Linked DNA regions of Homo sapiens. The protein of the gene in region 2 purifies or fractionates together with the protein of the main gene of each other region. This does not show direct contact. Each region holds a gene or a part of one and is shown on either strand. Other genes may lie near its edges.

What was found. The genes of interacting proteins can lie anywhere in the genome.
Region 1: the proteins of CELF4 (region 2) and MSI2 purify together in Homo sapiens (affinity purification with mass spectrometry, with the first as the bait; one large-scale study listed by BioGRID). This does not show direct contact.

Annotation. Positions count from the first base shown.
Region 1 is NC_000017.11:57,679,468-57,682,459, reverse strand, and holds part of MSI2 (RNA-binding protein Musashi homolog 2), read right to left. Parts: intron 2,912-2,992; coding exon of another isoform or gene 2,870-2,911; 3' UTR 1-2,869.
Region 2 is NC_000018.10:37,245,103-37,247,890, forward strand, and holds part of CELF4 (CUGBP Elav-like family member 4), read right to left. Parts: intron 2,169-2,788; coding exon of another isoform or gene 2,115-2,168; exon of another isoform or gene 96-2,114; coding exon of another isoform or gene 69-95; 3' UTR 1-68. UniProt on the Homo sapiens protein: RNA-binding protein implicated in the regulation of pre-mRNA alternative splicing. Mediates exon inclusion and/or exclusion in pre-mRNA that are subject to tissue-specific and developmentally regulated alternative splicing.

The DNA of each region.
Region 1 (2,992 bases), on a different chromosome or scaffold from region 2:
ATATTTTTTCTCTTAGTAAAATCATTTTAATATACCATGCCTCCCTCTTTTAAAAAATAAATTAAAAAAATCCAGTTTTGCATATCTAGCATTAGCATTTAAGGTAGTATGGCACCCCTTCACAGTGGGTGGGGGGGGGGGGATCTACAAAACGCCGTAGAGTCCGCCGGCATTTTAACATGGTGAGACCTTGGGTTAGTTGAAACCACATCAGATCAGCTAAAATAAAATTAAACTTGAAATTGAAAAAAATAATTAAAGGAAAAAACTGCCCCAAAATTATTAGCATTTTTTTTCATAAATAAGAGAAAGTTCTATCCTTACTGGTCCTAAATCTGAATAACTATGTCTAATTTTTTTTAAACCTTAATTATGTTATACCTATCAATATGTACTAGAAGAAAGAGGAGAAAAAAAGTCGCTACACTAGTACCAGGACAGCACGCTTACAAGATAGCCATTTTATACATTATTAACATACAATGATCAACAAAGAGTCTTCTATGAGGTGATGGGGGATGCAGAGAAAAGGAAGGGAAGTACAGTACATCACCAACATGGACAAAATAGGAATTAAATTCCCTCGTCTAAACACTGAATTTCTGGGAATTTACTATTTTTTCTTTCTTTTTTTTTTTTTAAATAAAACTTATGTTTTGTTGTTTTATGACTTGAACAAGTTTTGATATTTTAAAAGCGCTCAGCATTTAATCTGGTTGTTTGGGGGAAAAGAAAAGAAACAAAGAAAGGAAAAAAACAACAAAAAAACCTCACCAAACAACCTAACATTTTATTAGAAAAACAAAGAACATGATTTTTTTTTTAATTAAAAAAAATGTTGTTGCTGTTTCATTAGAATTGAAAACGGGTTTTTTCTTTCTTTCTGAGTTAGCATTTTGGAGTCTTTAGTTTGAAGATGCTTTTGCCCTACCATGTCTGTGAATGTCTACATTAGTCTACTTTGTTAGTAAAATTTATAAAAATAGGAGTGCAGCAGCTCTTTATAATAAATGTCGCATTCAGTGTCTCATACTGGCTGTGCCTTAAGTACCAAATTTATAAACGTAACAATTTAAAAAATATTAATAAAACGTCAATATCACATTTTAAAAAAGAAAAAATATATATCCACACTACAATATGTTTTAATGCCATCTATTGAGTTGTACTTCTATAGTTGCTGTTGCCGACCTATTACCAATATTTAAAAAAAAGTTAAATTAAAAAATATCCTTCATCATAAGTATCTTTCCCCAACCGAGGACCATATATTATAACAGCCAAATGTTAAACATGTGCAAAGAGGAAACTGTCAGTTTTTCCCACCAGTCACAGTGCAGTGATGTTTATACTTTTTATTTTTAAAATTCTGTTTACATCTACAATAAATTAAAAAAAAATTCTTCCATAGCCTCTCTGGTGATACTTGCAGCACTGAGGTATTAAAAAAAATATATATAAACCAAAAGGTTGCTTTCCTAATTTGTAAATAGAAAGTGAATGGAGAAAGGTTGTATTAATGCAGGCTTATCCACTCCTGGCCCATGGGCCCCCAGATGTGGGAGCAGGGTGGGGGGCAGGGGGAGAAGAGAGGCAAAGTGTCCTAGGGACCTTTGGAGGTGCTGAAATGATTGGACAATAGAAAATGATCAAATATTTAAAAATTAAGACTGAAAAAGAATGTCCCCCCCACCCCACCCCCACCCAAGCCAAACAGGTGTGCTTTGAAACTTTAAATATGTTAAATATTAAAATTGTAGCTTTGTTTTTAAAAAACATCTTGGGAAAAGCAGTTTTTCATATTTTAAATAAAAATCTAACTAGACGGTAACATTTGAAGCTGTGCACAGACAAGAGGTTAATAGGCTGGTACAACACTAATACAGTTCTTAGGTCTATCACACAGACAAAGGAGCTAAACAGTGCTCTAACTTGTCCTGGGGTGGTCCTGGCAGCTGGGCGATCTTCATCTCAGTAACTGACTTGGCCAACGTTCCCTTCCCGCCTCCTTCCACAGAGCATCAAACTGCCTGGGACCGACTCCCTCACAAAAATATTTTTGATTCTCTCTTTCTTAATAGTTTCTATGTAGTTAATGGAATTGTATTTACAACATTTCTTTTTTAGAATTCACAATTTCAAAAAACCTTATAATATCACCTCTTTCAACAGAAAAAAAGCACTTATAGAAAAGGAGGACACTCAAAACACTGTCGTCCTTACCTTATTGCCGAAAATAGATAGACTCAGATTAACAAAGAGACATCACAAAAAGAACTGCTAGAAAGTCTGTTAATTAGCTTACTACATCTCACTTCTTCTACAACGCAAAATAGAAAGCTCACGCCCACCTCCCGCCCTGCACTTCACAACTTTGCTTCAGTGTGTGCTAAAGTTCCACCTGAAAATTCATACAGTCTCAGAATTGGTACCAAAATATGGAGAGTCATATTACCATCTCAGCATCCTTTAAAAGTGAGAACAGAACCAAAACAAGCAAAAAAAAATGTTTTAAGAAAAAATAACTCCTTAATATAACAATTATACTATGGTTAGCTTTGAACTAGATATTAAAGCTATGTGACTACTGGACTAAGTCAAAATCACTACCAAATGTGATTCAAAGAGATTTAAAAGGAGAATGGGAAGAGAGGGAGGGAGAGGGAAACCATCAAGAAAAACAAAACAAAACAAAACCGAAATCATGGGTTATATACACATTTAAAAGCTGTTGTCTTATATTACAGCAGATTCGTGAGATGATGAGATGTAGTCAACCCTCGATCCGAAGTGAGCCATCTCTGGTTGGGATGGGGAGTGAGGCTGGTGGGGGTCCAGGTCTGAGGACATCACCTAAACAAAGGGCCACTCAGAAACTTCGCCCAGTCTTGCCTGGACATCCAGGTATGCTCTGCAGGGCAGGGAAGGCCAGGATGTCCAGAAGAAAACATAAAATGGAGGGGAGAGGGGAGGAGAAAGAAGTGTCAGACAA
Region 2 (2,788 bases):
GGCTGATATGTCAAAGGTGTCATCCAACAGTTCTCATTTATAAATATATATAGAGAGAGGTTTGTTTTTTAATGTAGCCCGTTCAGCATCCTGCCCTAAAATGAAGAAAATCAGGGCTGATTAAGCCAAGAGGGAAAACACAAACAGCATCCAAACACCAATAGGAACCTGCCTCAGGGGCTAGGATGGGAGCTCTAGGGGATGGTGGGAGGGAAGGAAGAGAGACCAGTATGAGAATTAGTCATGATCATGATACATTAAAAAGAAATATACTCTTCTATTCAGAGTAGAAACCACTGGGAGGTCTAGTGGTGATGGTTGTAGCTGAGGTTTCGTTGTTGGGAGAAGGTTCTTGATTTGGGTTACTTTAGCATTCTGGATTGGGGGTAGCTACATCTAAGGGGAGAATTTGGGACTGCGGGATATGAATTCATAATTAAACTTGTCTCTGAGGGATCTAGCCCAGATACAATATGTATACAGAAGCCTAGCAAACAAGATAGGAAAAATCTAGCAGCCCAGCCCACTCCTCCCAGCTCAAGGGAAAGAAGGAAGACACATCCGTGACTCAAATTTTGTAGAATCCTTGCCCAGCTTCCAGCCAACCACTTCTTTCCCGGGGTCAGTAACTATTTGCGAGGCTGTGTATATATATGTATATCTGGATATATGTGTAGAATATATTCACCTGCACATATGTGGATATACATGGATATGTGTGTATGTATATGCATATATACACACATACACACACATAATACTTTTCTCATACATGCCAGGGAATTTAGAGGAATTCAGAACTTCAAGGGAGTGGATGGGAAAACCTAAAAAAGGTCAGAAGAGATTTAATTATCAAACTTAAATAAATTAACTCAGACAGTGCTTGATTTTGTTTTGAATGGTGGCTTTTTGGTGTTTTGTTTTGCTTTAAAAAAATCATGATCTGACTAGAATCAGAAGGCGAATGCTTAATCATTGTGAATTAACAAATGAGACTCATCTCCATTCTAGCAAGCAGCTTCCACTTATACATGGGGGTGACTGGTTACATCAAGAAAGTTAGAACTGCAAAGCCCCCACTTGAGGGGACAACGTCATGCGTATATCAATCCATGCTGGCAGGTTTTTCACACTGTTGATTCAACAAACAGCAAACCGTACACAGCAGTCTAAACAATTACAACACCAAATAAAATAATAATAAAATTAAAAAACACTTGTCAAGGACCCTTTTTCAGTTGTAAACAAAAAGGTGCATTTTGCTTTTGTTAGTACTGTTTCTTCCAAACCAACCAAAAAAAACCCTCCCGAGCCCCCAGTCCCCAGCCTCCCCTCCCCACATTTAATTTAGCAGAAGTGGTTACAATACAAACCTTACAATTGTTACCGGGCTCTCTTGCAGAGGCCTCTGGCTTTGTACTCTAGTTTTTTGGTTTAGAATTTTTTTATCATTCTGTTACTGTAGATATTTTGTTTTTGTTTTTTTGTTTTTGTTTTTTTTCCCTTTGAAGTGAGATTGAAAATAGCCTAACTGGAAAAAGACCAGACCTAGGAAAGTGTCAATTGAAAAAGGCCCCCAAATTTCTAGAAAAAAATAAAATCACAATATTTTCAAGTGCAAGTAAATCAACCACGCATAGATATTTTTAAGATGTTTTCCTTATTTTTAAGAAAAAAATAATGGTTTGCACAGGTAAATGATCCCATGTTTGATAATTCAGGAATTCATCTTTATTTTGACTATTTTTTGTTCTTTTGTTTTGTTTTTTTCTCTATGTGACATCTAGAGAAGCATAAAAAAACGCTGAACAAGAAAAACCAAACAACAGAAAGTAAAACCACTGCAAGCACCAAGAACGAAACGAAAATGAGCACAGCAAAAAAGATTGTGGCAGCACAAAAGTCAAGAAAATGCACGTGTGATCATGACTGGCCAATCATCAACTGATACAACATCCAAGAAAAACGCTCCAATCACAGCACCTCCACGAAACTTGACGGCAATTGTCATGCAACCGATTCTTAGCCTTGTTACATGACGCCATCATGTCACACTGTGAACTTTGAGTTGATTTGAACTTACGGATGGGGGACTTTTCTCCACTCTCATGTGATTACGTGAACTTTATTCCTAGCTCAGCGCGAGACTGTGGTGGATTTGACTGGCCCTGGTTGGGTTGTTGGAATTTGATTGAATGACAAAAGAAGAAAAGATTTATATATATATTTATATATGTAGAGAGAGAGAGAGAGAGGACAAGAGAGTGTGGGTGGGGGAAGGAAGAGGTGGGGCAGGGCAGGTGGGGTTGGGGAGTGTGGGAGGGCAGGGAGGGCTGGGATTTGGGTGAAGGAGGGCAAGGAAGAAGTTAAAACAAAATTAAAAAGAAAATATATTTATACAGCACCAGACCACAGCATCAATCTAGAAGCTCTGATGAGAGAACAGCAGTCAAATCATAAGAGAACTGAAAAGAACTCAAAGGATGGAGGAAGCCAGCAGACAAACATGGGCACATCAACACACACACACGCACACACACACGCACGCACACACATACACACATACACACACACGGTTGTTTATGCAGACACATGATACACTGTGAACAGAAGCAGAACCTCACACAGGGCCACTAAGGGCATCCATCATGCGTTGGGGAGGGGGGCATGGGCGGTTTGGCAAGGGGGCCAGAAAAAAAATAAAACAGCCCCTCAAACCACCTTGGCCAGCAAGCAATCTCAGGGAGCAGGCGCTCTGCTTTTCATCACCCTTGATTCTTTCTCTCCC